Linked DNA regions of Homo sapiens. The protein of the gene in region 1 purifies or fractionates together with the protein of each later gene. This does not show direct contact. Each region holds a gene or a part of one and is shown in the gene's direction. Other genes may lie near its edges.

The links.
Region 2: the proteins of CGRRF1 (region 1) and USP33 purify together in Homo sapiens (affinity purification with mass spectrometry; 3 studies listed by BioGRID and IntAct, with this or other methods). This does not show direct contact.
Region 3: the proteins of CGRRF1 (region 1) and COLEC12 purify together in Homo sapiens (affinity purification with mass spectrometry; 3 studies listed by BioGRID and IntAct, with this or other methods). This does not show direct contact.
Region 4: the proteins of CGRRF1 (region 1) and SREBF2 purify together in Homo sapiens (affinity purification with mass spectrometry; 3 studies listed by BioGRID and IntAct, with this or other methods). This does not show direct contact.

Annotation. Positions count from the first base shown.
Region 1 is NC_000014.9:54,512,884-54,519,911, forward strand, and holds part of CGRRF1 (cell growth regulator with RING finger domain protein 1), read left to right. Parts: intron 1-7,028. UniProt on the Homo sapiens protein: Able to inhibit growth in several cell lines.
Region 2 is NC_000001.11:77,749,825-77,756,852, reverse strand, and holds part of USP33 (ubiquitin carboxyl-terminal hydrolase 33), read left to right. Parts: intron 1-7,028. UniProt on the Homo sapiens protein: Deubiquitinating enzyme involved in various processes such as centrosome duplication, cellular migration and beta-2 adrenergic receptor/ADRB2 recycling.
Region 3 is NC_000018.10:343,681-350,708, reverse strand, and holds part of COLEC12 (collectin-12), read left to right. Parts: intron 1-2,545; coding exon 2,546-2,644; intron 2,645-3,367; coding exon 3,368-4,414; intron 4,415-7,028. UniProt on the Homo sapiens protein: Scavenger receptor that displays several functions associated with host defense. Promotes binding and phagocytosis of Gram-positive, Gram-negative bacteria and yeast.
Region 4 is NC_000022.11:41,871,091-41,878,118, forward strand, and holds part of SREBF2 (sterol regulatory element-binding protein 2), read left to right. Parts: intron 1-2,707; coding exon 2,708-2,929; intron 2,930-4,246; coding exon 4,247-4,361; intron 4,362-4,452; coding exon 4,453-4,634; intron 4,635-6,138; coding exon 6,139-6,331; intron 6,332-6,851; coding exon 6,852-7,028.

The DNA of each region.
Region 1 (7,028 bases):
TTATTCTCTTTTCTCTGTTCCCTTGTCCTAGGAGTGATAGCTGCTTCCTGCTGTTACTACTTCTTATCACATAAGTAGGACTCAGTGTCCTCTTTTTGCCTTTTCAGTTCTTCAACATATGGTTAACATTTTTCATATGAAAATTTCTCTTGATGTTGATGCTGACAACTTTAAAAATCAAGTCCAATCTCTCTGTTAAAATAACGGATGCATTTTCAGACTCCTGCCTGGACCCTGACTGATAAAGAAATTGTCACTAAGAATGGGATCCTGGTGAGAAAACTTTCAAAGATAGAATTTGGGGGCATCGGTTTGGTAATTTCTTTAGCTCTTTGCCAATGGGAAATAATCTAGTAACCCACAACATGTAGTGGCATCACAATCAAATTGATACATTTGGTTGATTGTGATAAAATTATTTCTGAAGCTGTGTGCTGGAGGACCAAGTGGCTAAAGCGCTTGACTGTTAATGGCAGTAATGATGACTACAGGGACTGAGGGAGAAGTGAGAAGTGAGATAGGTGCTTCTTTGTTCACTGGAGCACTGACAGAAAGCAAATGACAAACTCAGGTCTTCAAAGCGTTAGATCGGTCAAGTCTTAGAGAATCAAAAAGTTTCCATGGTTCTAAAGCACTTCATTTTGTGTAGCCACGGAAAGACTTGCTAAAAATTGGACACAGTTTTATGTTATGTTATGTTATGTTATGTTATGTTATGTTATGTTATGTTATGTAATGTTATGTTATGTTATGTTATTTTTGAGACAGAGTCTTGCTCTGTTGTCCGAGCTGGAGTGCAGTGGCATGATTTTGGCTCACTGCCTATAATTCCAGCACTTTGGGAGGCTGAGGCAGGAAGACTGTTTGAGCCCAGAAGTTCAAGACCAACATGGGAAATATGGCAAAACTCGGTCTCTACAAAAAATAGAAAAATTAGCCAGGCATGGTGGCAGGTGCCTGAACACAGTTTTAACTGCGATAGTAATAGAATTACCTAGCCTTTGTCAGTGTCTCATTTAGAATATTGTTTGGAAAGAAGTAGAACCCTGAGACTTGGAATGGGGACATCTAGGTAGACATGGACAGAGCTGAGAATCTTGAAAAAAACTCCAGTCACTCTGAGCCTCCATTGTTGACAGAAGCTGCTTACTTTTGAAAATTAGCCTTCTCTTGCTTGAAGATCCTGTAATAACCTCACCTAGGGTAGTTTCTTTGCAAAGGGCTATCCACACTTAAGAGCTACCTCTATTATCTTGTCATGAGGCCCAGATCTCTGCATGTTGCCTAGTATAGGGACAAAATCTGATCTGACTAGAAATAGTCTGTCCTTGAAAAGAATTGCAAAATTTTGCTAATTTATATCTGTGGAATCCTGAGGAATATATGTGAGGATGGATTGTAAGCCGGAGAATAGAATGTAACACTAGATCAGATCATATTTATTCATCTGGGTATATTCTCAAGAAATTCTGCATCTAAAGCGTTAACTCATACTTGTTTGTTTGATGGAAACTTGGACTCATTGGTGGCCTGTATTTTATAACGTTGAGATTTCTGTTGTTGTTGTTTTTAAACATTTAGGTTCAGAGGTACATGTGAAGGTTTGTTACATAGGTAAACTCGTGTCATGGGTTTGTTGTACAGATTATTTCATCACCCAGGTATTAATCCCAGTACTCAATAGTTATCTTTTCTGCTCCTGTTCTTCCTCCTAACTTCCACCCTCAGGTGGATCCCAGTATCTGTTGTTCCCTTCTTTGGGCTCATGAGTTCTCATCATTTAGCTCCCACTTATAAGTGAGAACATGCTGTATTTGGTCTTCTCTTCCAGGAGATGGAACAGAAATGTTGAGTGCCTTCTAATTTCCTTGTAAGTACTGCTTTATCAGCATTCCCCCACATTTTGACACATATGTCTTCATTTTTATTCAGGTCATAATTTAAAATAATTTCCCTTTTGATTTTTTTCTTGACCTCTAAGTTATTTAGAAGTTTGTTATTGAGTTTCCAAATATTTGGAAATTTTAAAGATATCTCTGTTACTGATTTATAATTTGATTCCATTGTGGTTAGCATACTTTTTATGATTTGACATCTTGTAAATTTATTGAGACTTGTTTTATAATCCAAATATATTCTCTCTTTGGTAAATGTCCTAATGCACTTAAAAATAATATATATTCTGCTATTATTGGGTGAGTTTTTTGTTTTTTTTTTTTTTTTTGAGACAGAGTCTCGCTCTGTCACCAGGCTGGAGTGCAGTGGTATGATCTCGGCTCACTGCAACCTCCGCCTCCTGGATTCAAGCAATTCTCCTGCCTCAGCCTCCAGAGTAGCTGGGACTACAGGTGTGCACTACCATGCCCAACTAATTTTTTTTTTTAATTTTTAGTAGAGATGGGGTTTCATCATGTTGGCCAGGATGGTCTCGATCGCTTGACCTCATGATCTGCCCGCGATGACCTCCCGAAGTGCTGGGATTACAGGTGTGAGTCACCGCGCCCGGCCGGGTGAGATGTTTTATAAGTGTCAATTAAGTCAAATTGGTTGATAGTGTTATTCAAGTTTTTGATGTCCTTACTGATTTTCTATATATTGGAGCTATCAGTTATTGAAGTTGTGGGGAGTATTAGAATTTCTGACTATAATTGTGGATTTATCTATTTCTCTTGGCAGTTGTATCAGTTTTTGCTTTATATTTTGAAGTTCTATTAATAGGTACATAAACATTTAGGATTATTTTGTGTGCATGATGAATTGACCCTTATATCACTATGAAATGGACCTCTTTGATCCTGGTAATAGTCTTTGCTCTGAGATCTACTTTGTCTGGTATTAATGTAGCTACTTCAGCTTTCTTTTGATTAGTGTTAGCATATACATCTTTTTTTCATCCTTTTACTTGTAAACTCTTTTTGTCTTTTTATTTAAAGTGGGTTTCTTGTATGCACCATATAGCTAGGTCTTATGTTTTTATCCAATCTGATAATCTTTGCCTTTTAACTAGGGAGTTTAAAACATTTACATTTAATGTGATTATTGATATTGTTAGATTTAATTCCACCATCTTGCTATTCGTTTTTTGTTTGTTTTGTCTGTTCTTTGTTTCTTTTCCCCTCTTTTATTTTACTAGTCTGTTTTTTGTTTCTTTTTCCCCTTTGTTCAGCCATCATTTACATTAGTTAAATAATTTATGTGATTCCATTTTATCTCCTTTGTTGGTTTATTAGCAATAACTTTTTTTAGTGGTTGCTTGAAAGTTTATAATGTATCTCTAACTTATCACCATCTACCTTCAGGTAATATTTTAAAGAGATATAAGAAAAGCATTATAATTCCTCACGTAGTTACCATTTCACTGCTATTTATTTCTTTGTATCAATCCAGATTTTTATTTGGTATCATTTTTCTTCTTCCCAAGGCATACTTTAATTTTTCTTGTTGTGCAAGTCTGTTGGTGATGAATTCTTTTAGCTTTTGTTATGTTTGAAAAAGTCTTTATTTTGCTTTGGAAAAATATAGGTATAGAATTCTAGATTGACAAGATTTTTTTCCTGTTAGTTCTTTAAAGATATTCTGCCTTCCATTGCTTCTTATTAATATTAAAAAGCTACTGACATTCTTATCTTTGTTCCTCTATGTGTAGTATATCTTTTTTTCCTTTTCTTTGGCTACCGTAGCATATCTTCTTTCTTTTTCTTAGGATTTTCTCTATATTACTGGTTTTAAGCAATTTGATTATTATGTGCCTTAGGTAATTTTCCTTGTTTCTTGTGCTTGGAGCTCATTGAGATTCTTGGGTCTGTAGGTTTTTATAGTTTTCAACATGTTGGGGAAGGTTTTCGCCATTATGTGTTCAAATACTTTATCTGTCCTCTGCAAACTTCAGTGATATGTTAAGACTTCAGTTACATGGCTGACTAAAAGTTGGCTTACTGATGCTTTTTGTTGTTGTTGTTGTTCAGTCTTTTTCCTTTCTGTGTTTCAATTTCAGTACTTTCTGTTATGTTGTCTTCAAGATTACTAATCTTTTATTGTGCAATACCTAATCTGCTGTTAATCTCATCCACTATATTTTTTATCTAAAACATTATCTTTTTCATCTCTAAATATTGATTTGGGCCTTTTAAATATCTTCCATGCCTCTATATCATATGTGCAGTCATTACTTTTCTTCTGAAACATATGGAATATAGTCCTAGGAGCTATTTTTATATCCTTGTCTACTAATTCAAGTATCTGTATGATTTCTGGATCTATTTCTATAGAGTTTTGCTCCTCATTGTGGGTACTGTTTTCCTGCTCTTTGCATGCCTGTTAATGTTTTTTTATCAGATGCTATACTTTGTGAATTTTACCTTACTAGGTGCTGGATATTTTTGTATTCCTCTAAATATTCTTGAGCTTTATTCTGGGTCACTGTTAAGTTACTCAGAAATAGTTTAGTCTGTTAGAGGCTTGCTTTTCAGCTTTGTTAGGCAGGACCAGAGCAGTCTTACCCAACTCTTTTATAAAATCAGAGTCATCAAAAGTGAATTTTTATTTCATTTGTTAATTTTATTGGTTATCTTTCAGTGTTAGACTTGTGTGTTTTGAAACTTTAGTTTTCAACCTAAATTTTAGTGGAAGATTCGTTTTGTTTTGTTACTTTTCTCCCTTTGTTATCACCCTCACTGTTTATCCACTTTGCAATTATTATTATTATTATTATTTTTAGTTGAGTATTTTATTTTATTTTTTCCTTCAACTTTTAAGTTCTGGGGTACATGTGCAGGATGTGCAGGTTTGTTACATAGGTAAATGTGTGCCATGGTGGTTAGCTGCACAGATCAACCATTCACCTTGATATTAAGCCCAGCATCCATTAGCTATTCTTGATGCTCTCCCTCCCCCAGCTCCCACCCTGATGGGCCCCAGTCTGTGTTGTTTCCCCTCCATGTGTCCATGTGTTCTCACTGTCTGCTCCCACTTACAAGTGAGAATATGCAATGTTTGATTTTCTGTTCTTGCATTAGTTTGCTGAGGATAATGGCTTCCAGCTTGACGCATTTTCCTGCAAAGGACATGACCTTGTTCCTTTTTATGGCTGCATAGTATTCTGTGGTGCATATGTACCACATTTTCTTCATCCAGTCTATCACTAATGGGCATTTGGGTTGATTCCATGTCTTTGCTATTGTGACTAGTGCTGAAATTAATATATGCATGCATGTATCTTTATAATAGAATGATTTATATTCCTTTGGGTATATACTCAGTAATAGGATTGCTGGGTCAAATGGTATTTCTGCCTCTAGATTTTTGAGGAATTGCCATACTGTCTTCCACAATAGTTGAACTAATTTATATTCCCACCAACAGTGCAAAAGTGTTTCTTTTAGGCCAGGCGCAGTGGCTCATGCCTGTAATCCTAGCACTTTGGGAGGCCGAGGTGGGCAGATCACCTGAGGTCGGGAGCTTGAGACCAGCCTGACCAACATGGAGAAATCCCGTCTCTACTAAAAATACAAAAAAAAATTAGCCAGGCGTGGTGGTGCATGCCTGGAATCCCAGCTACTTGGGAGGCTGAGGCAGGAGAATCACTTGAACCCAGGAGGTGGAGGTTGCGGTGAGCTGAGATCATGCCATTGCAGTCCAGCCTGGGCAACAAGAGCGAAACTCCATCTCAAAAAAAAAAAAGAAAAAAAAAAGTGTTTCTTTTTCTCCACAACTTTGCCAAGATCTGTTGTTTCTGGATTTTTTTAATAATTGCCATTATGACTGGCGTGAAATGGTATCTCATTGTGGTTTTGATTTGCATTTCTCTAATGATCAGTGATGTTGAGCTGTTTTTCACATGTTTGTTGGCTGCATGAATGTCTTTTAAGAAGTGTCTGTTCATGTGGTTTGCCTACTTTTTAATGGGGTTGTTTTTTTCTTGTAAATTTGTTTAAGTTCCTTGTAGACTCTGGATATTAGACCTTTGTCAGATGGATAGATTGCAAAAACATTTTATATTCATTTATACCCAGATTCCTAGACCTCCAGACCAGGACTAGGTTTTTGTTGTTTTGTTTTGTTTTGTTTTGTTTTGTTTGGGACGGAGTTTCACTCTTGTTGCCCAGGCTGGAGTACAATGGCATGATCTCGGCTCTCTGCAACCTCTGCCTCCTGGGTTCAAGCAATTCTCCTGCCTCAGCCTCCCAAGTAGCTGGGATTACAGGCATGCACCACCATGCCCAGCTAATTTTTTTTGTATTTTTAGTAGAGACGGGGTTTCTCCATGTTGTTCAAGCTGGTCTTGAACTCCCGACCTCGGGTGATCTGCCCACCTTGGCCTCCCAAAATGTTGGGATCACAGGCGTGAGCTACTGTGCCTGGCCTTTTTTTTTTGAGACAGAATCTCTCTGTGTTGCCCAGGCTGGAGTGCAGTGGCACAATCTCTGCTTACTGCAGTCTTGACCTCCCAGGCTCAAGCGATCCTTCCACCTCAGCCTCTTAAGTAGCTGGGACCACAGGTGTACACCACCATGCCCAACTAATTTTCCATTTTTTTTTTTTTTTTTTTGTAGAGATGGGGTCTCGCTATTGTTGCCCAGACTGGTGTCGAACTCCTGGGCTCAAGCATTCCTCCCTCCTCAGCCTCCCAAAGTTCTGGGATTATGGGCAGGAGCCAGTGCACCCAGCCTAGGACCAAGTCTTATAACGACAGTTCTGCGTATTTTTGTATTGACCTAATCCAGCTCCTGGTTCCAAGTTATAAACCTGGCTCTGGCCCTTGTCTGGAGAAGACAGCCTATGCTGGTCTCCTTAGTACATGAAGGCTTGGTTGCCACTGTCTGCTGCCAGACTGAGAACCATGAAACCATGGCATAGCCTTACTCATTACTTTGTTTCTTTGCTTTTTTTGGATCCATAAAGGTATTTGTTCCCAGCATTTTATTATAAAAATTTTCAAACATACAGAATACTAGAAAGAATTACACAGTGAACACACATCTGCCCATCACTTAGATTCTACAATCAGCATTTTACTGTAATTTCTCTAT
Region 2 (7,028 bases), on another chromosome or scaffold:
GTGACCATTATTTTTGTAGCCCTTATGGTTTCTCTGAAGTGCATCTTGAACTTGGACCTGAGATGACATGGGTGCAGGTGAGATGCTATAAAGCACAAGTGAGGAAGCAGGTAGAATCAGAGAAGGAGGAAAAAAGGTTAATAGTGGAAGGCCAACTGGAGGCTGCTTAAGCCTTTGGAGATTTTTGTATAACTGCCTCAGAGTTTTGTATAACTGCCCCAAATGAAGGGGAGCTGGGTGGTTTTCCATCTACAGTCAATCCTCACTGATAAAGATTGCCTTTATCTAAAAGGCTCCCAGAACTTCCCAGGTACACTGGTTAGGTAGGGCTTGGCAAGCTCCTGAGGTGCTGGAGAGCTGAGGAGAGAAGTAGTTGAGATGGGAAGTTGTCAGTGTGTTAACTGTGCATACCAGCTACAAGTAAACATTGAAGTGAGCTGAAAGGAGATGGTCCAGGTATCAACTCTGTGTCTTAACAGGCATTCTCATTGAATAATCCAGATGTGAAATAAAAGCCTCAATTTAGATAGAGACCTAGAAGAAATGTGAGATGAAATGTGGTTAAAAAAAAAAATGCCGAATTTAGAAACTGATAGAAAGTGAGGAGGGGAGCCAGGTGCTGTGGCTTGAGCCTGTAGTCTCAGTCACTTGGGAGGCTGAAACAGGAGATTTGCTTGAGCCCAGAAGTTCAAGTCCAACCTGGGCAATATAGAGAGCCTCCCATTTCAAAAAAAGTAAATGAAAAAAGTAAGGAGGGATCTAAGATGGTACTGAGGTTTAAAAGTTAGTTAACTTGTGAAAAAGAAGGGTTGACAGAAGGACACTGACTTTCAAATTAGTTTTTTAAGGAAAGTGAAAAAATTGCATAGTATTCAGGAGAGTGATGATAAGAGTGTTGATGACCAGTCATTCAAAAGGAAAGCAGGGTGGAGACTTGAACAATGCTGCCATCCCCACAAACTTATAATGTCTGGCCCATGCTGGATTATAAGCATTTGTTAAATTAATTTCTATCCCCCAGGGCTTATCACAGTCCTGAAATACAGTAATGTGGTGAAACTATAGGGCTGAATGTGACCTAAAATAAGACCATTTCCCACAGGTTTTAACTTTTATAAAATCCTAGAAGAGGAATTTCTTATATATTTTACTTTTTTGTGAAAGGGTCTCACTCTTGCCCAGCCTGGCGTGCAGTGGTGCGATCTTGGCTCACTGCAACCTCCACCTCCTGCGTTCAAGCAGTTCTCACCACTCAGCCTCTGGAGTAGCTGAGATTACAGGCGCACGCCACCATACCCAGCTAATTTTTGTATTTTTTGGTAGAAATGGGGGTTTCACCATGTTGGCCAGGCTGGTCTCAAACTCCTGACCTCAAGTGACCCTCCCACCTTGGATTCCCAAAGTGCTGGGATTACAGGCATGAGCTGCCATGTCTGGCTGGAATTTCTTATATTTTTTATGGAAGCATTACTGTGTTTAGATGAATCAGTTTTGATTAGTTTTAAAATCAATATTATAGTCTGGTAAACAATAAAAGAATTGATAATTTTTCTTATGGTGGTTCTCATTTGAATATGGTGATAGCATTTGTTTTCTCATATTCTTTCTTTCTTTTTTCTTTTTGCTCACAAGCTGAACTGAAGATTTAGGTTTTTCCATGTTTCTATGTGGTTTACATGAATATTTTTAATGACTGTTCCGTAATGCCAGTATATTAACTCTTCATCTTGCTCAAAAGTGAGACTTAGAGTGAAAATTATCATCAGCTTATTTGAGACTCTGTTAGAACTCTGTCATATTCATTAATTCATTTCTATTTCCTCTCTCTTCCAATATTTCTCAAAATTATTTCAACGAGATAAGGCTAGAATTGACCATATTTTGCCATTCATTATTGGACAGATTTTTAAAAATCTTTATAGGAAATGCTAATTAATATTTACAAATCTCATTTAGAGGATGTTATTTGGAATGAAGATTGCCAGATTGGAGCTATACTTTGGTATTATTAATAGTGGTAATGTTAAGAATAGATTGTAGAACACATAGGTTGTAGCCAGAGAACTCAGTTAGAAGACTGCGTATTTCTTTTAATAGCCTTAAGGCTCTCATTAATTAGACTCTTAAGGATCAATGAGACAGATTTTCTAGTAAAAGAGAAATAAAAAGATTAGCACTACATTTCTTTTTCTGTGTTGTGGTTTTGAATGAAAATTAAGAATGATTAGGTAAGTATTATAGGACTTTGTGGGATCTTCAAATCCTCACAGAGGTTTGAATGATTTTATTCTCAGAATATTTGTTTAAAGGGAAAGAAACAGTTATTTAAAATGCTTGTCAGCTGATTTCTTTTGTGAAAAGTCTCCCTGAGCACTTACTATGGATTGAGAATAAAATAAACTTTTCTGCTTGTTGTTGCACTCTTCATTGATAACTTCCTTCCATTCATCAGTTTTTTTGGCTTGCTTTTATTGGGTAGCAATTTTCTTCCATGATAAATATGGAAAGATAAGCCATAAGCTTATTCCTTCATTGTATTTTTGCTAAAGTGTAATATTTCATATGGTACTGCTGGACTAGTACTCGTGGAACCATAGTCTAGATTGAAACTGTTGAAAGACAAATCAATTTTTTTATAATCATAGAATCTTAATTCAATTCTGAGTTTTTAGTGCAAAGTGCTTGCTGTCCTTTGAAGCACCTCTGACAGTTACCCAACCTCTGTGTAACAATTATGGGGAACATGCTCCTTCCATGAAAGTTCATCTGTATTTGAACCGAAGTCTTCACCGTTGATTGAATATGCTGTTCTGACTTTCTCAAGTTGCACAGAAAAGAAAGGATCCCTTTGGTCATCATGTTCAATTGGAACATGTGTATCAAGTCCTGGCATCTTTTGCCTTCTGCTGTTTAAACATCCATGCTTTCAGTTCGTAATGGTTGACATTTACTGAGTACTTACTATATCACCCTCTTCTAAGTATTTTATATATACTAATATATAATATGTAATTATATATTAACGTATTATGTGTAATTATATAATTAGTTTAAAATATTATATATTAATCTTCTCCAAAACTCTAGAAAGTAGATATTTGTAATTAGATCAGTGTTTTAGATGAGGGAGCTAAGGCAAAGAGAAGAAACTTACCACTGGTCCCAAATCTAGGAGATAGTGGAGCCTTGCTCCAGAAACTTTACTCTTAGTACAGTGCTATCTTATAAGATACAGTTTTCAAATTATTTCTTTTAAGGTTTTCTATGAGAGGCACTCTTATTCTGTAGCTTTTAGTATTCTTCTTAAATAAAATACTGTATTCCAGATATAATCTACTTATTTTATGCGAACATTAAGATTGGCTATTATTTTTTCCCCTTTTCACCACTCTATTCAATTAAAAAATTATTATTTTTTTTTTGTAAAGATGGGGGGTGGGTATCACTCTGTTGCCTAGGCTGGTCTTGAACTCTTGGCCTCAAGCGATCCTCATGCCCCTGCCTCCCAGAGTGCTGGGATTACAGGTGTGAGCCACCATACCCAGCAAGACTGGTTACTCTTTTTATTCTGAAACCTTGAAACCTAGTGTTCTGTTGATTAATTGAGTAGGAATTGCTACTTCTTCAAGGGTCTAGAATCCAAATACCTGACCCCCTTTTTTGGTCTCAGTTTATATGGTTGATTCTTTGAATCCCAATGTCGAATATCACATCCATCATTATTAAATTTCGTCCTGTTAATTTTAGCTAATTTTTTTTATTTTTTATTTTTTGAGATGGAGTTTTGCTCTTGTCACCCAGACTGGAGTGCAGTGGCATGATCTTGGCTCACTTCGACCTCCTCTTCGCGGGTTCCAGCAATTCCCATGCCTCAGCCTCCCAGCTAGCTAGGACTACAGACGCACACCACCACGCCCTGCTAATTTTTTGTGTTTTTAGTAGAGACAGGGTTTCACCATGTTGGCTAGGCTGGTAATGAACTCCTGACCTCAGGTGATCCACCGGCCTCGGCCTCGCAAAGTGCTGGGATTACAGGTGTGAGCCACCACGCCCAGCCAATTTTAGCTTATTTTAAAAAATAGTTTAATTTTTCTTTAAAAACTTATTTTTATAATTTTAAGTTTATATTTTACTAGCCTGCCTTCTGTAGCTTTATCCAGGTTATTGTTAAAAATATTGAGCAGTTCTGACACCTGCTAGTGAAGACCTCCTGCATTCATATTAATCTTATATGTAACTATTAAATAGCTACCAATCCTTCTGACATAATTTTTTTTCTCTGTAATGTGAATCTGACTTTTTATGAAGAGCTTTACTTTTTGGAATAGACTAGGCAATGGAATTCAGGCAGTTTCTCAATATTAAAAGCTCCTTAGGTTACCAACTATGTCCTGATGTGTAATTATTATATTAAGGCCAGGCGCAGTGGCTCACTCCTGTAATCCCAGCACTTTGGGAGGCCGAGGTGGGTGGATCACTTGAGGCCAGAAGTTTGAGACCAGTCTGGGTAACACGGTGAAACTCCGTCTCTACTAAAAATACAAAAATTTAGCTGGATGTGGTGACACATGCTTGTAATCCCAGCTACTCAAGTGACTGAGGCATGAGAATTGCTTGAACCTGGGAGGGAGAAGTTGCAAGTGAGCCGAGATTGCGCCACTGCACTCCAGCCTGGGCGACAGAGTGAAATTCTGTCTCAAAAAAAAAAAAAATTGTACTAATAACATGGTTCCCTATACTTTTCCTAATATTAAAATTTGAATAGCTGATTGATTATCTTCTATTAGGATAAGGGGTCAGAATTTCAACCTGGAATTTGGAGATTGTACTACGAAAATATTCTCCCCTTAAAAGTAATATCTTCGGGCGCGGCGCGGTGGCTCAAGCCTGTAATCCCAGCACTTTGGGAGGCCGAGGTGGGCGGATCACGAGGTCAAGAGATCGAGACCATCCTGGCTAACACAGTGAAACCCCATCTCTACTGGAAATACAAAAAATTAGCTGGGTGTGATGGCGGGTGCCTGTAGTCCCAGCTACTCAGGAGGCTGAGGCAGGAGAATGGCGTGAACCCGGGAGGTGGAGCTTGCAGTGAGCTGAGATCGCGCCACTGCACTCAAGCCTGGGCGACAGAGCAAGACTCCGTCTCAAAAAAAAAAAGGTAATATCTTCAGAAGCAGTTTTGTTTTGTTTTTGAGACAAGGCCTAGCTCTGTCACTCAGGCGGGAGTGCAGTGGTGCAATCACAGCTCACTGCATGCAACTTCTGCCTCCTGGGCTCAGGTGATCCTCCCACCTCAGCCTCCTGAATAGCTGGGACTGCAGGGGCATGCCACCAGGCCTGGGTAATTTTTGTATTTTTTTGGGGTAGAGACAGGGTATTGCCGTGTTGCCCAGGCTGGTCTTGAACTCCTGGGTTCAAGCAGTCCTCCCGCCTCAGTCTCCTAAAGTGCTGGGATTACAGGTGCGAGCCACCATGCCCAGCCCAGAAGCAGTTTTGCATTTACTTTAATGCAGATGAGCAATTTAGCCACCGGAGCTGTACATCATAGAGCGTGAGTGCAGTCGTTTTCATCTGGAAAAATTTTCAGTTGGTGTTGCTGCCATCATTATTGGTGAGAAAACTTCCAGTAGTCCAGTTAGTGTGGCAGATAGAGGAAAAAGCTGCCAGATACAAGATTACAAAGATAAGGACAAACAGATAAAATCTTGTGCACTCTTTGTGATTTCCAACTTGTAAGTCACAAGCTTCTACAGGAGTCTTAGTTTTGCAAAATCTACTTCTGTGGATTGGACAATAGCATTTCCATATACAACCATTTTCTGTTTTTTTCTAATGTCTAATACTCATCTCCTGTGATTAAATTATCAGACAAGAATGGAAGCATACATGCCTTCTTTCTTTTGGTGTACAATTTGAGAAGAAATTGAAGTAGCTAAGAACTCCCATTGTCTTACCCTACTATATCTGAATGCCCTACCCTCAATAAACATTTGTCAAATAAAGGAATAAAAGAATGATTTTATTACCTTAGTAAATAAACTGAGTAAAACTAGGCAAAGAAAATACTAAGGGTTTTCTATTTTGATAGCATTGTATTATACGGGATACTAAATATCCTTGGGACAAATTGTTAGCCTTTGTTTACATGCACTAATTCTTTTCCTTTTTCTTTCTTTCTTTCTTTCTTTCTTTCTTTCTTTCTTTCTTTCTTTCTTTCTTTCTTTCTTTTTTAAGTCAGGGTCTTGCTGTGTTGCACAGGCTGGAGTGCAGTGGTGCAATCTTGGCTCACTGCAACCTTTGCCTCCTGGGCTCAAGGGATTCTCCTGCCTCAGTGGAACTACAGGTGTGCACCACCACGCTGGGCTGATTTTTCTATTTTCTGTAGAGAGATGGGGTTTCACCATGTTGCCCAGGCTGGTCTTGAACTCGTCAGCTCAAATGATCTTCCCGCCTTGGCCTCCCAAAGTGCTGGGATTACAGACCTGAGCTGTCATGCGTGGCTGCCCAGCCAATTCTTTCTTTCTTTCTTTTTTTGGAGATGGAGCCTTGCTCTGTTGCCCAGGCTGGTGTGCAGTGGCGTGATCACGGCTCACTGCAACCTCTGCCTCCTGGGTTCAAGTGATTCTCCTGCTTCAGCCTCCCGAGTAGCTGGGATTACAGGCACCCACCACTATGCACGGCTAATTTTTGTATTTTTAGTAAAGAAGGGGTTTTGCCATGTTGGCCAGGCTGGTCTCAGACTCCTGAACTCAGGTGATCCACCTACTTCGGCCTCCCAAAATTCTGGAATTACAGTCATCGCACCTGGCCCTGCCCAGCCAATTCTTATTAAATTGTTTAGATAATGCAAAATTAATAGCAGAGCAGAGAGAATGTATTTATGTTTTATTCTTTTTTTCATCTCAGCTATCAGCAGAGAGAATTTATTTTAATCTTATTTTTTGCTTGAGATTTTAGAAAAAAATATTTATCTTGGAAGTTTCTTTTCAATCCTCTGATCCCATTTCTTTCCTCTGAGGCAAAATAGT
Region 3 (7,028 bases), on another chromosome or scaffold:
TGATCCACCCACCCCAGCCTCCCAAAGTGTTGGAATTACGGGCGTGAGCCACCATGCCCGGTCTGAAGTCTTTTTTTTTAAGCTATTGATACTAAGAAGGACAGTCAGACTTGATCCCAAGCTGCTAGAAGCTGTATCTCACATAAATCACTTTTGGAGAAACATCCTCTTATTTAACATTTTAGAAACGTGTACTTGAATTCATAACTGTAGAGAATTACTGCCTTCTGAAAATGAATAAGAACTGAAGCTTTTATTTAGTGTGGCTGTATTAGTCCGTTCCCATGCTGCTGATAAAGACATACCCGAGACTGGGAAGAACAAGAGGTTTAACTGGAATTACAGTTCCACATGGCTGGGGAGGCCTCAGAATCATGGTGGGAGGCAAAAGGCACTTCTTACACGGCAGCAGCAAGAGAAAGTGAGAAAGATGAAAAAGTGGAAACCCATCAGATCTCGTGAGACTTATTCACTACCATGAGAACAGTATGGGGGAAACCGCCCCCATGATTCAAATTATCTCCCACTGGGTCCTTCCCACAACACATGTAAATTCTGGGAGATATAATTCAAGATGAGATTTGGGCGAGAATACAGCCAAACTGTATCATTCCACCCCTGGCCCCTGCCAAATCTCATGTCCTCACGTTTCAAAACAAATCATGCCTTCCCAACAGTCCCACAAAGTTTTAACTCATTTCAGCATTAACCCTAAAGTCTGCAGTCCAAAGTCCCATCTGAGACAAGGCAAGTCCCTTCCGCCTATGAGCCTGTAAAATCAAAAGCAAGCTAGTTACTTCCTAGATACAATGAGGGTTACAGGTATTGGGTAAATATAGCCTTTCCAAATGGGAGAAATTGGCCAAAACAGAGGGGTTACAGGCCCCATGCAAGTTCAAAGTCAGCAGGGCAGTCAAATTTTAAAGCTCCACAATTATCTCCTTTGACTCCAGGTCGCACATCCCGGTCATGCTGACGCAAGAGGTGGGTTCCCATGGTCTTGGGCAGCTCCACCCCTGTGGCTTTGCAGGGTACAGCCTCTCTCCCTGCTGCTTTCATGGCTGGTGTTGAGCATCTGTGGCTTTTCCAGGTGAACGGTGCAAACTGTCAGTGGATCTACCCTTCTGGGGTCTGGAGGACGGTGGCCCTCTTCTCACAGCTCCACTAGGCAGTGCCCCAGTAGGGACTCTGTGTGGGGGCTCCGACACCACATTTCCCTTCCACACTGCCCTAGCAGAGGTTCTTCATGCACATCCCACCCGTGCAGCAAACCTCTCCCTGGGTATCCAAGAGTTCCCATACATCCTCTGAAATCCAGGCGGAGGTTCCCAAACCTCAATTATTGATTTCTGTGCACTCACAGGCTCAACAACACATGAAAGCTGCCAAGGCTTGAGACTTGCACCCTCTGAAGCCACGGCCCCAGCTCCACATTGGCCCCTTTCAGCCATGGCTGGAGTGGCTGGGAAGCAGGGCACCAAGTCCCTAGGCTGCACACAGCATGGGGACCCTGGGCCTGGCCCACGAAACCATTTTCTCCTGGGCCTCCAGGCCAGTGATGGAAAGGGCTGCCAGGAAGGCTCTGACATGCCCTGAAGACATTTTCCCCATTGTCTTGGGGGTTAACATTTGGGACGGCAAGAGAAAATTAGAAAGATGCAAAAGTGGAAACCCCTGATAAGACCATCAGATCTTGTGAGACTTATTCACTACCACCAGAACAGTATAGGGGAAACCACCCCCATTATTCAAATTATCTCCCACCAAGTCCCTCCCACAACACATGGGAATTAGGGGAGTATAATTCAAGGTGAGATTTGGGTGGGGACACAGCCAAACCCTATCAGTGGCATTACTTTCCCTATCATATGCAATCAAGAAAATACTACCAAAAAATACTTCTTGGCAAATCATTGTTTGGAAACACCACTCAGGCATCTACTTGAGAACTGACAAACTACAGAATCAGTTGTCACTAACAAAAAGCAGATTTTCAGGGCCTTGTGGTGGAACTCATAACAGAAAGTGGCAGACACTCTTGACTTTGCAACCTTTCTATGCCGATTTTGTGTATAGAATTGAGCTGGGTTTTCCTTGCCAATGGAATCCTCTTCTAGGTAAATGAGTCCCACCTGCCAAGAATGTTAGGGAAGCTGATGAGTGACAACATTTTGTAAATTATCACAGTGTGCCTTGCCTTCATCTATGGAAATTAATATAGGAAATAGCAGATTAGGGACTTCTAAAATGCATGAAAATTTTTAAATTAGTTCCAAATGATTTCTGAAACATCCAAGGCATTACAGAATCATAAGAATAGTTAAGAACATACAATTCTCAACTAAGTAAATTGTACCCCTGGGTTTTGTGACAAGTAAGTTATTTTTCCAAAAAGATGGCTTTTCTTTCCTATATTTGATTTCAGTTACACTGTTTTCGTTCAATCTGTTTCCTTTGTTCCATAATGAAATGATCTCTTGTTTTGAAACTGAAAAATAAAATATGAGCAGATATGTATACTAATGCATCATTTTCCAAATCTTAGTTGTAGAGAAAATGGACAATGTCACAGGTGGCATGGAAACATCTCGCCAAACCTATGATGACAAGCTCACAGCAGTGGAAAGTGACCTGAAAAAATTAGGTAATCTGTGACAAGACTAAACCATGAAATCCCCTGACTCTACATAAATGACCACAGCTTCTTAGAATGATGTTGCTATAAACTCCCCATTCACCCGGAAGGACATTCAATTTTTGTGTTGCATGTTGAGTCTCCCCTCATGATTTAATTCAAATGCTTAAATTTTAAAGTTAAGGGTCAGTTTTGGAATTAAGTCCTGCCAAGAAAACTATTATGTGCCAAATAATATCTGAAGATCAATCCTGACTGAAAAAAAACACAAATACCCTTTATTAAAAACTGTCACATAAATAGGAATTTACTGAGCATTTTTGAAATACTTTAAACTACATAGAATTGTAGAAATTAAGTTATAAAGTGAAAGATCCTAGCATATTCTATTCCTTGATTTTTGCTTTCATTAAAAAAAAATTTGGGAAATTTAAAAGGTTAGTTTCTTCTTGACAGCCTGCCCACTGCCCTAAAATCTAGTAAATTCCCCCTCCCTCTTTGAGAAAAATGTTCAGCCAAGTTTGTCATTCCTAGTTCTGAGCTTCTTTTCCGATTCCCCAGGACCCAGTTTTAATAGATATGTACATTTTACTAATGCAGAGCTGTCCGCTTATACTGCCAATTTTGCATCTAAAATACAGTGCATACCGATTAAGTGTGTTCGGGATCTTTGGCCTTGCCTGAACACTTCTCCATACCACCAATATAAGTCACAGATATTTCTTATTCCAGGTGACCAAACTGGGAAGAAAGCTATCAGCACCAACTCAGAACTCTCCACCTTCAGATCAGACATTCTAGATCTCCGTCAGCAACTTCGTGAGATTACAGAAAAAACCAGCAAGAACAAGGATACGCTGGAGAAGTTACAGGCGAGCGGGGATGCTCTGGTGGACAGGCAGAGTCAATTGAAAGAAACTTTGGAGAATAACTCTTTCCTCATCACCACTGTAAACAAAACCCTCCAGGCGTATAATGGCTATGTCACGAATCTGCAGCAAGATACCAGCGTGCTCCAGGGCAATCTGCAGAACCAAATGTATTCTCATAATGTGGTCATCATGAACCTCAACAACCTGAACCTGACCCAGGTGCAGCAGAGGAACCTCATCACGAATCTGCAGCGGTCTGTGGATGACACAAGCCAGGCTATCCAGCGAATCAAGAACGACTTTCAAAATCTGCAGCAGGTTTTTCTTCAAGCCAAGAAGGACACGGATTGGCTGAAGGAGAAAGTGCAGAGCTTGCAGACGCTGGCTGCCAACAACTCTGCGTTGGCCAAAGCCAACAACGACACCCTGGAGGATATGAACAGCCAGCTCAACTCATTCACAGGTCAGATGGAGAACATCACCACTATCTCTCAAGCCAACGAGCAGAACCTGAAAGACCTGCAGGACTTACACAAAGATGCAGAGAATAGAACAGCCATCAAGTTCAACCAACTGGAGGAACGCTTCCAGCTCTTTGAGACGGATATTGTGAACATCATTAGCAATATCAGTTACACAGCCCACCACCTGCGGACGCTGACCAGCAATCTAAATGAAGTCAGGACCACTTGCACAGATACCCTTACCAAACACACAGATGATCTGACCTCCTTGAATAATACCCTGGCCAACATCCGTTTGGATTCTGTTTCTCTCAGGATGCAACAAGATTTGATGAGGTCGAGGTTAGACACTGAAGTAGCCAACTTATCAGTGATTATGGAAGAAATGAAGCTAGTAGACTCCAAGCATGGTCAGCTCATCAAGAATTTTACAATACTACAAGGTAAGTCAAAATTCTGAATTTGTATTTGTATTAGTTGTTTATTGCTGCATAACAAGTTACTCTAAAACTTGGCAATTTAAAACAATAAATATTCATCATCTCATAGTTTTTGTGGACCAGGAATTCAAGAGCAGCTTAGCTAGATGGTCCTGACTCACTGTTTTTCATGAGGTTGTGTCAAGATCTCAGCCAGAGCTGCAGTCATCTGAAGGCTTGACTGTGGCTGGAGGGTCTGCTACTTAAGTGGCCTGTTCACATAGCTCTTGGCAGGAGGCCTCAGTTCCTTGCTGTGTGAAATTGCTTGAGTGTCCTCACAATGTGGCAGCTGGCTGCTGCCAGAACAAGGAATTCAAGAGAGAGAACAAGAAGGAAGATACCATGACATACTAGCCTCAGAAGCCACACACCATCACATCCACTTCATTCTGTTTCTTAGAAATAAGTCACTAAGTCCAGCCCACACTCAATGCAAGTGGAATTAAGTTCCACATCTTGAAAAGAAGTGTAACTAAGAATCTGTGGACAGTACTTAAAGGGACTCCATTAATTATTTGTTGAGTGAAAGGTTGGTTAATTTGAATTTTCTTGGTCCTTGAGCTATTTCAATGCAATATAAATCAAGCTCCTCTGAAAGCAAGATCAAGTCTTTTGGGTCACAAAGCTACCATTAAGGGAGTTACATGTCATGAGTAGATGAATGGTTGGCCATCACAGTAACACAGAGGTCACAGTAAGGTCACAGAGGAAGGAAACGATGTGTCTTGCTTATAAAATCTGAGTTTTGGTAGGTGTGCTGGCTCATGCCTGTAATCTTAACACTTTCGGAGGCTGAGGTGGGAGGATCGCTTGAGACCAGGAGTTTGAGACCAGCCTGGGCAACATAGCAATATCCCATCTCCTAAATAAACAAATAAATGAATGAATACATACGTATAATCTGAATTTTACTGTTATCCAGATCATCCATATAAATTAAAAGTCCTTGACTCAGACTAAGTCCACAGTTGAAGAATTGTAGCATCATATATTAACAGTATTTTCCAGTCACAAACTATTTTCACAGGTTTTAAGTTGAAAGTACTGGTGGAAGATGCTGTGCTCAGCAGTCTGGGGTATACAAATGAAACCAACGGTCCTCACCCTTAGGGAGTTTAACATAAAGAGAATTTCAGGGCATCAGAAGATGGGCTGTAAGCAAACATTCAAGGGGAAGGGATTACACAAGGGCCTGAGTCACTAGGGGCCACCTTGGGGTATGTCCCCCACACTGGTCTAATAATCAAGGGTAAAGAGTGGTAGTTAATAAGCCCCTGTGAGGCTGAAGGCAGATCCGGATAGCAGATGGCAGGACTCTGTTCAATAGCTTTGTCAGTGACTAGCATGGATGACCTGCTAAAGCAATGCTTGTGTGACTTGAAACTGTATATGCCAGCCAGTGGCTGATAGACTCATAATCCACAATGATCTAGAGAGGCCAGGATAGTATCAAGATGTCAATCAAATGAAGTAGATAGGAATACATGTAAAATCCTGCTCATAAATGGATGAGACAAAACAGATAAATGTTGATGGGAAGGCATGGCTGGAAGGAAGTGTGCATGAAGCATGGGGATTTTAGTTGACTGGAAGCAGTGAAATATGTCTTCCAGGGAAGGGAATGTGTTCCTTGACTGTGGACTGTGTTAAGAAAAAGGGAAGTAACATCTGACTCTGTTCAGTATGCCAAGACCACCTCTGGAAGATAATGTTTACTTTGAGTAGCCCCTTTCAAAAGAGACATTCCCAGACCAGCATGCTCAGAAAAGCAACATCAGAATGATAGGGGCTAGAAACCACGTACTGTGAGGAAGGGTTGAGGACCTGGGAGCTTTCACCCCTAGGAGAGCCTGTTCAGTGGAGAACAAGACAGCCATCTGCACTTATTTAAAGTTGCTCTGTCTGAGGAATGCCACTGGGTGAAACAAGACTAGTGGGTGTTCACTAAGGGAAGATCAATTTTGGTTTTACAGAATGTTCCTCATAAAATGGGTATTAGCTGAAAATATAATGGCTCCCCTACTCAATCAGGATGCCCCAGCTCTGGAGGGGCTGGACAGTTGCAGGTCAGGGATATGGTAGGTGTGAGTCTTACTCTGAAAAAGGGGTAGCCCTTCAAATGATTTAAAAAAAAATTCTTAGACAATCTTATCATGGTATTCTGGATATTTTCTAGTTATTAATTTTATAGTTTTATTATTTCATTAATTTAATTGTTACCTTGTCTTCAGTTATTTAGTTTATAGACAGCGTGGCTTATCAGCCAAGTAAGGACATGAAAAGCTAGTATTTGAAGGTGAGACCCTGAGTGTTTAAGTTAATGTTTCTATTGTTAGGATTCTTTTATCAGCTAGTATTGAAAGTGAATGTACTGAGCACTTTTCACCAACGTCCCAATGAATCCTGACAGCAGCTCTATGAAGCAGCTACTTACAATGTCATCGCCAGTTTATAGACGAGGAAATTAAGGCTTAGAAGGTTTGAGTAACTTGCTGAGGTTTACACAAGTAAAAAGTAGCTCAGTGGAATCCGAGCCCAGGCCGTCTGGTGCCAAACCTGATGCCATTAACTCCAAGGA
Region 4 (7,028 bases), on another chromosome or scaffold:
TAGTCTTCAGAGATGTTAAATCTCTATATGCTGAGTAGGTATGGGAGGGTCTATAGCACAAATCAGTCAAATTGTAAATGTCACCCCTCTTAGTTGTTTTTCGCTCGAAAAAGTATTAGCAATGTGTGTTCGATGTGGGAGTACTGGAGTCTACAAGGAGGTAGAAAAGAATAGCAGAAGGACCCTCTATTCTTGGCTAATAGCTCCACACAAGACCATTCACCTCTTAGATCCTGCTGATGACTTCTGAAGGACCCTAGGGCCACCAGGCAGGGAAGGGCTCCAAGGTGAAGAACATGGAAGGTACCCCATCCTTCAGTTGTAGGTTCTTAGCCACTTTCAGCATCCTATAGCATGAGAATCTGATAGAGTAAATGGTGATTAAAATTTAGAAGCACTAGCTTTATTCATAAAATCCAAGAACTGGAAGCAACTCAAATGTCCATCCACAGGAAAATAAGCACATTGTGATATATTCATACAATGAAATTATGCCTAGCAATTAAAAAACAGAACTGCTGACAGGCACGGTGGCTCACGCCTGTAATCTCAGCACTTTGGGAGGCCAAGAGGGGTGGATCACCTGAGGTCAGGAGTTTGAGACCAGCCTGGCCAACACGGTGAAACCCCATTTCTACTAAAAATACAAAAATTAGCTGGGTATGGTGGTGCATGGTGCATGCCTGTAATCCCAGCTACTCAGGAGGCTGAGGCAGGAGAATTGCTTGAACCTGAGAGGTGGAAGCTGCAGTGAGCCGAGATCGCACCACTGCACTCCAGCCTGGATGACAGAACGAGACTGACTCTCAAAAAAAAAAAAAAAAGCTACTGATGCATGAAACAACATGGGGCTGTCCCTCAGAAATAGTGTGTCAAGCCACCGGGCGCAGTGGCTCACACCTGTAATCCCAGCACTTTGGGAGGCCGAGGTGGGTAGATCATGAGGTCAGGAGATCGAGACCATCCTGGCTACCATGGTGAAACCCCGTCTCTGCTAAAAATACAAAAAATTAGCCGGGCATGGTGGCGGGCACCTGTAGTCCTAGCTACTCGGGAGGCCGAGGTAGGAGAATGTCGTGAACCTGGGAGGTGGAGCTTGCAGTGAGCCAAGATTGCGCCACTGCACTCCAGCCCGGGCGACAGAGCAAATCTCCGTCTCAAAAAAAAAAAAAAAGAAATAGTGTGTCAAGCCAAAGGAGTTCATGCTAATGAGTCCATTTATATGAAGTTTAAAAAGAGGCAAAATGAAGCTATGGTGCTGGAATTCAGAGCGGTGGTGACAAGGAGGGGAGGGGCATGCGGGGACTTTCTGAGCTGGTAGAAATGGGCTATATCTTGGTCTGGGTGGTTATATACATTGTGTACATATGTAAAATTCATCAAGCTATAAACTTAAGATTTGTGGTTTTTATTGTGCATGACGTACTTATTGGCAACTAATGAAATTGGGCACCTTTTTATTTATTTATTGGCTGATTAGATATTGAGGCCATTATTTAAGAAATTAAACTAAAATTGGTCCAGGCCCAGTGGCTCACGCCTGTATTCCCAGCATTTTGGGAGGCTGAGGTGGGCAGATCACCTGAGGTCAGTAGTTTGAGATCAGCCTGGCCAACATGATGAAATCCCATCTCTACTAAAAATACAAAAATGAGCCAGGTGTGGTGGTGGGTGCCTGTATTCCCAGCTACTCAGGAGGCTGAGGCAGGAGAATCACTTGAACCAGGGGGGTGCAGGTTGTAGTAAGCTGTGATCACGCCACTGCACTCCAGCTTTTGGGCAACAGAGTGAGACTTTGTCTCAAAAAAAAAAACAAAAACAAAAAAACAGGACGTGGTGGCTCACGCCTGTAATCCCAGCACTTTGGGAGGCCAAGGCGGGTGGATCACCTGAGGTCAGCAGTTTGAGACCAGCCTGACCAACATGGAGAAACCCCGTCTCTACTAAAAATACAAAATTAGCCAGGCATGGTGGCGCATGCCTGTAATCCAAGCTACTCGGGAGGCTGAGGCAGCAGAATCACTTGAAGCTGGGAGGCAGAGTTTGTGGTGAGCCGAGATCACACCATTGCATTCCAGCCTGGGCAACAAGAGCGAAACTCCGTCTCAAAAAAAATAAAATAAAATAAAATAAAGTTAGAAAAAATAAGAGGAGAAAACAGAGATGAAGAATAAAAAGGGGAGACCTCCATGGTTGGCCTATTTACTTAATCAAATGGCTCTTATTGAGAGTGTCACTTCTGCCCTTGAGCTTTTTGATGGCAAAATTGTATAAAGAAATGCAGTAATTTGCTTAATTGTCATTTGAGAGGAAAAAATGTGTCATACACTAGGAGAAAGTTTTCTCTGGTGCCAACTCGTGGTTCACCGTGTACAACTTTAGAAGTGGTTAACAGTTTGACAGCAAAGCAGAAATCATATGACTTGTTTCTGGCATACGTAGATCAAAACTTAAAACATATTTAGCCATGTTAATCCTCTTGTGGTGTAGTTTATCAGCAGTGATTCTTGAAGGGAGGTAGTAACCAAGGTTCCGTGGCTCCTGAGACTTCTTGGGGCCTGATTTGATTAACCCAGGAAGAGTCTCAGACCTCATGAAGTACTGCCAGGTCTGGCAGCACTTGGCCAAAGCGGGCAGGTCTGTGTTGAGGTTGCTTTATGCAGACTAACAAAGGGATCATTCTGCTGTGTACCTGTCCCTATTCTAGACCCTGGTGGGCAGCAGTGGGACCATTCTGACCACAATGCCTGTAATGATGGGGCAAGAGAAAGTGCCCATTAAGCAGGTACCTGGGGGAGTCAAGCAGCTTGAGCCCCCCAAAGAAGGAGAAAGGCGGACAACCCATAATATCATTGAGAAACGATATCGCTCCTCCATCAATGACAAAATCATCGAATTGAAAGACCTGGTCATGGGGACAGACGCCAAGGTGGGTGCCAAGCAAAATTGTGTTTTATGTTCCACCATCTCCCCTCTACCTGTTTTTGCCTCAGGAGCCTAGAGAAGTCCCAGGCTCAAGGTAAGTGAATACAAGACCGAGTTAGAGGTGCTTTTTTATTAAAGCATCTTGGTGTCATGTCAAGATTATAAAATATTAAAAAACATAAGGGACTGGTGAGGGTTGATAAGGCAGTGACCCGCTGAGACCTTTGACTCCTTTGGCTATGCTCTGCAGTGATGGGGACTCCACTGTCAGAGGCAGAGAAAGATGCCTGCCACTCAGTAGTTCCAGATACAGGACTGTGTGTACCTTGGAGTCAGCTGATGGCATAGTTTTAGCTGTGTTTAGGGGTTACCTTTTAAGGAAAAGAAAGAAAAAAGAGGTTGAGTCTTTGACCAGCAACACATAGAGGAAACTGATGTTCCAAATGTTTCTGGTGTTTCAGTGTATGTGTCTTCTAGAAAGTAGGAGATTTTATTTTTAAAACCTATCTATGTTTAAACCCTATTTTGAAAGAAAATTTCATTTTCCTTGCCTACAAATCTGAAAGCTGTACATCCTAAGTAAAAATCTATGCCTTAAGATAACTGTCCAGGCTAGGCACTGTGGCTTACGCCTGTAATCCCAGCACTTTGGGAGGCTGAGGCGGGTGGATCACGAGGCCAGGAGTTCAAGACCAGCCTGGCCAACATGGTGAAACCCCGTCTCTACTAAAAATACAAAAAATTAGCCGGGCGTGCTGGCAGGTGCCTGTAATCCCAGCTACTTGGAAGGCTGAGGCAGGAGAATTGTTTGAACCTGGGAGGCAGAGGTTGCAGTGATCTGAGATCGCGCCATTGCACTCCATCCTGGGCAACAAGAGTGAAACTCTGTCTTGGAAAAAAGAAAAAAAAAAAGATAACTGTCCAACAATGCTGTGGTTGTTTTTTTCATTTGTTTTCGTTAAAGTTTGTTATGGTGCTAGGATTATTATAAGAAGTGGGAACAATAGCTAATATTTATTGAGTGTCAACTATTTGCCAGGCTCAGGGCTAAGCCCTTTACACTCATTATCTCATTTAGCCCTGCTGCAAGCCTGTGATTCACGCGCTTTCATTATCTCTGTGCTAATGAGGAGGAAAGTGAGGTTCTGAGGTATGGAATAACTTCTCCCGAGTGGCACAGCTAATCATTGGGAGGACCAGCATCTGAACTTGGTTTCTCCTCTCACAGAGCCATGCTGTCATCCCAAGTGCTAGGGCTCTGCTCTTTTCACACTGTAGCCTGCACTGGTCTCACTGTGTTTTCACTCATCTTCCTACCCAGATGCACAAGTCTGGCGTTCTGAGGAAGGCCATTGATTACATCAAATACTTGCAGCAGGTCAATCATAAACTGCGCCAGGAGAACATGGTGCTGAAGCTGGCAAATCAAAAGAACAGTAAGTGTGCTGAGAAAAGGCTTGTCAGCCCTGGCCCAGGTGGGGCTTTGTAAAAGCAGATCATTTTCACCAGGTGGGGTTTTCTTTGCAGAGCTTCTAAAGGGCATCGACCTAGGCAGTCTGGTGGACAATGAGGTGGACCTGAAGATCGAGGACTTTAATCAGAATGTCCTTCTGATGTCCCCCCCAGCCTCTGACTCAGGGTCCCAGGCTGGCTTCTCTCCCTACTCCATTGACTCTGAGCCAGGAAGCCCTCTATTGGATGATGCAAAGGTACAGACTTTTGAAATCTCCTGATCCCTGGAATCTTTCCCATTTCCCCTAAGAAGATAGCTGGGAGGTCACAGTTATGAGGCCAGGCCGCATGTTAAGAGGGCCTAGCCTGGAGAAAAACAGGAATTCTGTGAAATTAGCCAGGTCCTGGAGAATAAAGAAAGAAAAAACTGACTCCGGGGGGAAACAGTCCCTCAGGTTTAACTGGTCCTTGCCGATAGGCCCCGTCAGAGAGGAATGAGTGCCAGATCCAGAACGAGAATGCAGAGTAGCTGTTGTGGGGGCGTTGGGAGCTGCTGGAGGCACCTCATTGCTTCACTCTGCCTTTAATGGGCCTGGCAAGACCACTTTGGGAGGCTGATCAGTTGGTTTAGGATGAGGCTGCCTCTGGGTCCTCTTTTCAGAAATGATTACAATTTGCAGTCTAACAGATAACATTTTACCTATGGGCCTTTAATCGTCAAAGCCCCTGGCAATGGTAGTTTAATGGAATTACTTAAGAGACGCTCTGAGCCTAATGATCTTCCTGGGAACCTGTAGAGACCACTGGGTTTTGTACTGTATTTTGACTTCGGCAGTTTCTGACTCTGAAAGCACAAAGTTCCCTCCTAGTGTTTGTTTTTGACTAAGCTGTTTATTGTATCATATACTTAATTTTACTAAGGAAGCTCCATTTTTGAAATATTCTTATAAATGTGGTTCTGTTTGGCAACAACAGGCTGTTTGACATATAAATTGAATTAGCTGGGCTTCTGAGTCATCAGAAGAAAATCTTAAATGGTTTTAAAATATTGAAAAGAAATGACATGCTATATACACATTGGGGCGCAGGGGAGATCTGGCTTCAGCCCTCCTGCTGTAAAATGGAGAGTGGGGTGGGTGTAGACAATGATACAGTTTTAGAACAGGTAAAATCCTTTAGATAGATTCACACTAAATACGGTCTTTGATCAACTTCATTGAGGTGTAATTTAAATGCAATAAAATATACCTACTTTAAAAGTACAGTACCAAGAGTTTTAACATAATGTACAGTGCTATGTAACTGTCACTGTAATCAAGATATAGAACATTTCCATCACCCCAAAAAGCTCTTTTGTACACCTTTGCAGGTAGTTTCCCACACCCCTCTCCAGCCTCAGACAATGACTGATTCATTGGTTTCCTGTTACTTTAGATTCATTTTGCCTGTTCTGGAATTATACAGAAACAGAATCATACAGTGTGTTCTCTTTTGTGGTAGATTTCTATTTTAAAAGAAAATCTCTTCTACCTTTGTTCTTTGGAACATGTACTTTTCTCAGTTAGCAAGCAGGTGAATGTGCCAATGTTTGAGCAGCAGTTAGTGAATTATAGGCTTCTCAGTTCCCATCTGGCCTTAGTCCTGAGTTAATCGACTTGAATTTAAACCTCATAACCATTTCTCAATATATATATATGTATTTATAAAGTGCTGTAAAAACCTATGCAGTATTTATTCCAACCTCGAGGCCTTGTTTTGAAGGTCAAAGATGAGCCAGACTCTCCTCCTGTGGCGCTGGGCATGGTAGACCGCTCACGGATTCTTCTGTGTGTCCTCACCTTCCTGTGCCTCTCCTTTAACCCCCTGACTTCCCTGCTGCAGTGGGGAGGGGCCCACGACTCTGACCAGCACCCACACTCAGGCTCTGGCCGCAGTGTCCTGTCATTCGAGTCAGGTAGGTGGAGGCCCCTTGCCCCACCTGGGCATGGCTGGACCACTATGGCAGGAGAAGGACCCTGTGTACAAACTTCTTGGCTTGGCTACCAGGTCCCAAAGGGCTTTTATAGTGGGCCCCCACCTGCTTGCTTCTGATAGGGACTGGCATAAGTTCCATTTTAGAAGTAACAAGGCAAGCCCAAGTTCAGTCAGAATGAGCAAAACAAATCAGGGACCCACACTACTCTAAATACCCTGGGGTGGAGGGGTGGTACCTATTTGAAGGAGGATATCGTGTTTTTTATCTGAGGTTGCAAAACCAATGCCTCAACCCTTTCAAAACAAAGATTTTTATGGCACTCAGCTCCATAATGAGAAGGGCTACAGTCATTAGCCCTGTTTAGATTATAGAATTATTTGCCCTTTCTTCTGAAAATGAGGTAGAAGACTCTTTCCTGTGATAGTGCTGGGGTCTGTCAGGTGCCTGGCTGCTCCGCAAGGCCTTTCCTAGCAGACTCTGCTGAGACGCTCCTTCTTAGGTTCTGGGGGCTGGTTTGACTGGATGATGCCTACTCTTCTCTTATGGCTGGTAAATGGTGTGATTGTCCTGAGCGTCTTTGTGAAGCTGCTGGTTCATGGGGAGCCAGTGATCCGGCCACACTCGCGCTCCTCGGTCACCTTCTGGAGGCACCGGAAACAGGCAGATCTGGATCTCG